2 linked regions of the Homo sapiens genome follow. The protein of the gene in region 1 purifies or fractionates together with the protein of each later gene. This does not show direct contact. Each region holds a gene or a part of one and is shown in the gene's direction. Other genes may lie near its edges.

Evidence for each region.
Region 2: the proteins of DFFB (region 1) and PKN2 purify together in Homo sapiens (affinity purification with mass spectrometry; 2 studies listed by BioGRID and IntAct, with this or other methods). This does not show direct contact.

The regions. Positions count from the first base shown.
Region 1 is NC_000001.11:3,860,383-3,864,308, forward strand, and holds part of DFFB (DNA fragmentation factor subunit beta), read left to right. Parts: intron 1-37; exon of another isoform or gene 38-124; intron 125-3,926. UniProt on the Homo sapiens protein: Nuclease that induces DNA fragmentation and chromatin condensation during apoptosis. Degrades naked DNA and induces apoptotic morphology.
Region 2 is NC_000001.11:88,771,178-88,775,103, forward strand, and holds part of PKN2 (serine/threonine-protein kinase N2), read left to right. Parts: intron 1-243; coding exon 244-389; intron 390-485; coding exon 486-702; intron 703-3,926. UniProt on the Homo sapiens protein: PKC-related serine/threonine-protein kinase and Rho/Rac effector protein that participates in specific signal transduction responses in the cell.

The DNA.
Region 1 (3,926 bases):
CGTCTGGCTAATTGTTTTGTATTTTTTGTAGAGATAGGGTTTCGCCATGTTTCCCAGGATAGTCTCACACTCCTGGGCTCAAGCTGTCCTCCTGCCTTGGTCTCCTAAAGTGCTGGGATTACAGGTATGAGCCACTGTGCCTGGCCTAAACCGTTTATTTAGAAATAATGACAGATTCCCAGGAAGTTGCACAGATAGGAAGGTCCAATGTACCTCTACCCTTTCCCTCAAAGGCAACATCAGATACAACCGTGGTACAATATAAAACAGGAACACCGACACTAGTGCAATGTGCATGTTGTTCTGTCATTTCTCCCCATGTAGATTCCTGTGACCAGCATCAGGGTCAAGGTACAGCCCTCTCCCATCCATCACTCAAGGTTCTCCCCTTTATAATCCTGCCTACCCCTGCCCACCAGCAATCCCTAGCCCGTAGCAACTGCTGATATGTTCTCCATGTCTATAATTTTGTCATTTAAAGAATATTAGGGGCCAGGTGCGGTGGCTTACACCTGTAATCCCAGCACTTTGGGAGGCCGAGGTGGGTGGATCACCTGAGATCAGGAGTTCAAGACCAGCCTGGGCAACATGGTGAAACCCCGTCTCTACTAAAAATACAAAAATTAGCTGGGCATGGTGGCGGGCGCTTGTAATCTCGCTACTCAGGAGGCTGAGGCAGGAGAATCGCTTGAGCCCAGCAGGTGGAGGTTGCAGTGAGCTGAGATTGTGCCATTGCACTCTAGCCTGGGTGACAGGCTGAGACTCCATCTCAAAAAAAAAAAAAAAAAGAATATTAGGTAAGTGGAATCATAAAGTATGTGACCTTTTGAGATGAGCCTTTTTCACTCCACATAAGGCTCCCGAGATGCATGTAAGTTGTGTGTATCCATAGTCCGTTCCTTTTCATTGCTGAGTAGCATTCCATGGTTTGGTTTTACCACAGTTTGTTCAACCATTCGCCTGTGGAAAGATATTTTGTTTGTTTCCAGTTTTTGACTATTACAAATGAAGCTGCTCTGGCCAATTATGTACAAGTTTTTCTTTTTTCTTTCTTGTTTTCTTTTGAGACAGGGTCTCACCCTGTCGCCCAGGCTGGAGTGCAGTGGTGCAATCATAGCTCACTCTAGCTTTCACTTCCTGGGCTCAAGCGATCCTCCTACCTCCGCCCCTGAGTAGCTGGGACTACAGGGGTGCACCACCATGCCTGGCTAATTTTTGTATTTTCTGTAGAAACAGGGCTTCATCATGTTGCCCAGGGTGGCCTATAACTCCTAGGCTCAAGCAATCTACCCGCCTTGGCCTCCCAAAGTGTTGGGATTACAGGCGTGAGCCACCGCACCTGGCCATCTTGACAGGTTTTTGCGAGATGTAGGTTTTCATGCCTCTGGGGAGAATGCCCAGGAGTACAGTGCTGCGTTGTGTGGTGTGTGTTTAGTTTCTGAAGACAAGGATGTCCACTCTTGCTGCTTCTGTTTAACATGGTACTGCAGGGTCTAGCCAGGACATTTAGGCAAGAAAAATAAAAAGCATCCAGATTGGAAAGGAAGAAGTGAAGCTATTTCTATTTGCAGATCATATGAACTTGTATGTAGAAAACCCTAAGGAATCCACTAAAAAGTGATTAGAACTAATCATCAAGTTTAGCAAGGTTGAAGGATATAAGATCATATGCAAATATAGAAATACACTTCCAACGAACAATCTGAAAATGAAGCAGAAAATCATCCCATTTACACTGGCATCAAAAAGAATAAAATACTTAGGATAAGTGTAACAAAAAATTGTAATACTTATATTCTGAAAACTGCAAAATGTTGTTGAAAGAAATTAAAGTTTTGAATAAATGGATTAACATCCCATGTTCATGGATTGGAAAACTTAACATTGTTAAGATGGTGGGACTCCCCAAACTGACCTACAAATTCAACACAATCCCTATGAAAATTCCAGCTGGTTTCATTGTAGAAATTGACATGCTGATTCTAATCCACAGTTCATATGGAATTGCAAGAGACCCAGAATAGCCAAAACGACTGTGAAAAAGAAGATAGTAGGAGGACCCACATATTCTGATTTCAAAACTTAGTACAAAGCCACAGTAATCAAGACTGACACTGGTACAAGGACAGATATATAGATCAATGGAATAGAACAGAGCACCCAGAAATCTATGTATCTGTGGTCAGGATGCCAGGACCATTCAACGGAGGGGGAAGAGTAGTATCTTCAACAGATAGTGCTGGGACAACTGTATATTCACATACAAAAGAATGAAGTTGGACTCTTAGCTGGTACCTTATACAAAAAGTACAATAAATGAAAGACCTAAATGTAAAAGTTAAAAATATAAAGCCCTTAGAAGAAAACATAGCGATAAGTCCTCATCGCCTTGGATTTGGCAAAAGATTCTTAGATTTGACACCAAAAACATGAGCAGCAGAAGAAAAAACAGATAAATTGGGCTTCATCAACATTAAGAACTCTGGCCCGGGCACGGTGGCTCAAGCCTGTAATCCCAGCACTTTGGGAGGCCGAGACGGGCAGATCACTTGAGGTCAGGAGTTGAGACAAGCCTGGCCAACATGGTGAAACCCCGTCTCTACTAAAAATACAAAAATTAGCCGGGCGTGGTGGCAGGCGCCTGTAATTCCAGCTACTCAGGAGGCTGAGGCAGGAGAATTGCTTGAACCGGGGAGGTGGAGGCTGCAGTGAACGACAGCCCACAGAATAGGACAAAATAGTTGCCAATCATGTATCTAATACGGGACTTGCATCAGAATATATAAAGAATCCTTATAACTTAATAGTAAAAAGATAACCCAATTAAACATGGGCAAAGGTTCTGAAAAGAAAGAAATGTCTCCAAGGAAGATATTCAAGTGGTCGTAAGCACAGGAAAAGGTGCTTGAGATCATCAGTCGTCAGGGAACTGCAAATCAAAACCACAGTGAGATGCTACTTCACACCCACTAGGATAACAACCAGTGTGGGCGAGGATGCAGAGCGGCTGGAACCCTCAGGCCCCATTGATGGGAAGGGAAAACGGTGCAGCTGCTGTGGAAAATAGTCTGGCAGTTTCTCAACAATTACACAGAATCGCCATGTGACCCAGCAGCTCCACTCCTAGGTATGTACCCAAGAGAAATGAAAACACGTCCACACCAAAACTCGTCCGTGAGCGTTTACAGTAGCTTTATTCATAATAGCCAAAAGGTAGAAACCACCTAAGTCTCCAATGATGAACACTTGGATCAATAGAGTGTGGCACATCCATACAATGGAAGTACTCACCATGAAGAGGAATGAAACACAGCATGGCCGAGCCTTGAAACCATGCCAAGTCAAGAAGCCTGCACATACAGTAGGGTTCCATTCATAGGAAATACCCAGAACGGGGATGTTAGAGAGATGGAAAATAGATTAGTGGTTGTTTAGGGTTGGGGGTAGGGTAGAGGGGAGGGAGGTTGGTAGCTAAAGAGTATGAGGTTTCTTTTTGAGGTGGTGAAAATGTTCTGAAATTGACTGTGGATGTGGCTGCACAACTCTGGGAATATAATAAAACCCATTGTATTGTACACTTTATTTATTTTATTTATTTTTTTTGAGATGAAGTCTTGCTCTCTCCCCAGGCTGGAGTACAGTGGCGCGATCTCGGCTCACTGCAACCTCTGCCTCCTGGGTTCAAGCGATTCTCTTGCCTCAGCCTCCCGAGTAGCTGGGGTTACAGGCATGCACCACTGCGCCCAGCTAATTTTTGTATTTTTAGTAGAGACAGGGTTTCACCATGTTGGCCAGGATGGTCGCGATCTCCTGACCTTGTGATCTGCCTGCCTCGGCCTCCGAAAGTGCTGGGATTACAGGCGTGAGCCACCGCGCCCGGCCTCTGAATTGTACACTTTAAATGGGTGAATTATAAGGAGTGTGAA
Region 2 (3,926 bases), about 85 Mb from region 1:
ACAATATTTGGATATCTTTCAGCTCTAAAATCTTTTTTTCAGATTTGTAATTTAGATGTGTAATGACAAAAATGAAAGGCTCTGAATTTCAATATCATATCAAATATTTTTATTTCAGTGTTTATTGATGTAAGGACTAAGTTATTGTAATGTTATAGGAATTCATTTCTTTTCATGATTTTAATCACTGCAAATTGGAAAGTCAGATAAATGGTGCAATTAAAATTTTTTTTTCCTTTCTAGCAAAACCTGTGATAAGTCCTCTTGAACTTCGGATGGAAGAATTAAGGCATCATTTTAGGATAGAGTTTGCAGTAGCAGAAGGTGCAAAGAATGTAATGAAATTACTTGGCTCAGGAAAAGTAACAGACAGAAAAGCACTTTCAGAAGTAATTTTAAATAAAAATTTTTATTTGGTTTAATAAATACATTATTCAAAGTATGTGATTATTTAAATGACAACAATTGTCTTTTCCCTGTGCAAGGCTCAAGCAAGATTTAATGAATCAAGTCAGAAGTTGGACCTTTTAAAGTATTCATTAGAGCAAAGATTAAACGAAGTCCCCAAGAATCATCCCAAAAGCAGGATTATTATTGAAGAACTTTCACTTGTTGCTGCATCACCAACACTAAGTCCACGTCAAAGTATGATATCTACGCAAAATCAATATAGTACACTATCCAAACCAGCAGCACTAACAGGTATGTAGTGTATAGCCATTGTTTTTTGTGTGTATTTTTGTCTATAACTGGTTCTGATTTAATAATTGAAAGAAAAACCTGTGCATAGATTTTTAAAATTATGATAAGATACACATAGAATAAAATTTGTTGTATTAACCATTTTAATTTTATTCAATTTGGAAGCATTTGCTATATTCACAATATTGTGTGACCATCACCACTACCTAGTTTCAAAGCATTTTCATCACCCCAAAAGGAAACGCATACCTGTTAAGCAGTCACTCCCCATTCCCCCTTCCTCCCAGCTGCTAGCAACTACTAATTGTCTGTCTCTACAGATTTGTCTATTCTAGATTTGTCATATGATAGAAATTATATAATTTGTGACCTTTTTTGCCTGGCTTCTTTTACTTAGCATATTGTTGTCAAGGTTCATTCATGTTGTAGTATGTATGAGTACTTCACTCACTTTTAATGTCTGAATAGTATTCCACTTGTGGGAATATTCTAAAATTCAAAACTTTTTGTGCACCCAACATGATGCTCAAAGGAAATTCTCATTGGAGCATTTTGGATTTGGGATTTCAGATTTCCAGATTAGGGATGCTTAACCAGTAAGTATAATATAATATAAACATTCCAAAATCTGAGATACTTCTGGTCCCAAGGATTTCAGATAAGGAATACTCAACCTATACTATATTTGATTGACCTATTTGTCAGAGCATATGAGTTCTTTTTACCTTTTGACTGTTGTGAGTAGACTGCTATGAACATTTACGTGCAGGTTTTTGCTTGAACATCTGTTTTCAATTTGGGGGTATATTCCTAGGAATATAATTGCTAGGTCATATGGTAGCTATATCTAAGATTTTGAGGAACTGTCAAACTGTTCTTCTCAGCATTTACATTATTTTATACTTCTAACAGTAATGTATAAAGTGGGTTTCAGTATCTCCAGATCCTCACCAACAGTTAATATTTTTTTTCATTCTTCTTTGATCGTGTTCTAATAGGTCCATTATTGGAAGTATGGTAATATATCTAACTATGTCTGTAGAACTGTCTGTATTTCTCCCTTCAGTTATGTAAATTTTTGTTTCCTATATTGTGGGCTGTTTTGCTAGGTTCATGTATGTTTACAATTTTTATATCTTCTAGACGGATTGACTCCTTTACCTTTACCTTAACTCCTTTATAATGTCCTTCTTTGTCTCCTATAACAATATTTAATTTAAAATCTGTTTTGTCTGATTTTATAACAGCTACCCCTACTTTGTTTTGGTTTTGTCTTTGGGTTCAAATGAGTCTCTTTTAGATTATATATTATTGTATTCTGTTTTATAAGATCCATTCTGTCAGTCTTTTTTTTTTTTAATTCATTTTTATTGAGACAGAGTCTCACTCTCATTGCAGCCTCCCACTCCCAGGTTCAAGCAATTCTTGTGCCTCAGCCTCCCGAGTAGCTGGGATTACAGGCATGTGCTACTGCACCTGGCTAGTTTTTGTATCTTTAGTAGAGACAGGGTTTCACCATGATGGCCATACTGGTGTCAAACTCCTGGCCTCAAGTGATCTGCATGTGCCACTGCACCTGGCTAATTTCTGTATTTTTAGTAGAGACAGGGTTTTACCATGATGGCCACACTGGTTTCAAACTCCTGGCCTCAAGTGATCTGCCTGCCTTGGGCTCCCAGAGTGCTGTGATTACTGGTGTGTGCCTCCACATCTGACCAGTGTTTGCTGTTTATTTAATAGTTTAAGACAGTTATCCAGATGAGGTTGCATGCACCTGTAGTCCCAGCTACTTGGGAGGCAGAGGCAGGAGAATTGCATGAGCCCAGGAGTTTGAGGCTACAGTGAGTCATGATTCCACCACTGCACTCCAGCCTGGGTGACACAGCAAGACTCCGCCTCTAAGAAAGAAAGAAAGAGAGAGAAACATTTAAAGTAATTACAGACAGGATGTAATAATCCTGGTGGTAACTACTGAGAGGTAGGTTAAATTTAATAGGTTTGTAGCACAGTCCCCCCACAAAACTGCCATCACTTCATAAGCAAGCAGCAAATTTAGAGTTTCCAAGGCTACATGCACTCCTGACCAACTGTCTACAGATTCCAGGATTTCTACTAGCATCTCAGCTCAGTAATTTGCAGGAACAAATCATAGAACTCAGGGAAGCACTATACTTAGGATTACGTTTTTATTATAAAGGATACAAATTAGGACCTTCATGGCTCACTGCAGCGAAAAGAAAATAAACATAAAGGGGGAGATCTGAGAGGATCTCAAACACAAACCTTATGTGTCCTTAGGATATATCACCCTCCTAACACATCAATGTCTGTCACCAACCAGGAAGTTCACTTGAGCATTGGGTGTGCAGAATTTTCATTGGGGCTTTGTTAACATAGGTGTGATTGAGTGAATCATTGGCCACATGATTGAATTCAATCTCCAGCCTTGTGCCCCTCCCTAGGTCAGGAGGTCAGACTGATAATGTGGCTCAAAGCCTCAACCTCCTGAAGATATGATCATTCTTTCTGGCATGGCCAGCCCCCATCCTGAAACTGTCTAGAGGCCCACCATGAGTCACCTTACCAGGTGTGGTCTAAGGTATCCACTATGAATAACAAAGGCACGCCTATCACTGGGGGAAATTCCAAAGGTTTAGACTTAGAGGCTGTCTTCCAGAAACCAGGGACAAAAACCAGCCAAATTATATACAACAAAAGGGCTTATTTCTGTCATTTTGCGGGTTTTTTTTTTTATGCAAGTGTTTATCTTTTTTTCTCTGAGTTCTAGTACTACCTTCTTTTGGTTTTGATTGAATTTTTCTACTCTGTTTTTATTTACTTATTTTTGAGACAGGATCTCTCTTTGTTGCCCAGGCTGGAGTACAGTGGTATGATCATAGCTCACTGTAACCTCAAACATCTGGGCTCAAGCAATCCTCCTGCCTCAACCTCCTGAGTAGCTAGGAGTACGGGAACGTGCCACCACACCTAGCTAATTTTTAGTTTTTTGCTAGCAATGGCGTCTCACTGTGTTGCTCAGGCTTGTCTCAAACTCCCGGCCTCAAGTCATCTTCCCACCTCAGACTTCCAAAGTGTTGGGATTATAGGCGTGAGCCACTATGCCCAGCCTCTATTCTTACTTTTCTTATTCCCTTCTTGCTCCCTTTTATGAGATAGATAGATATATATATTCTCCCACCTCAGCCTCCCTAGTAGCTGGGAGT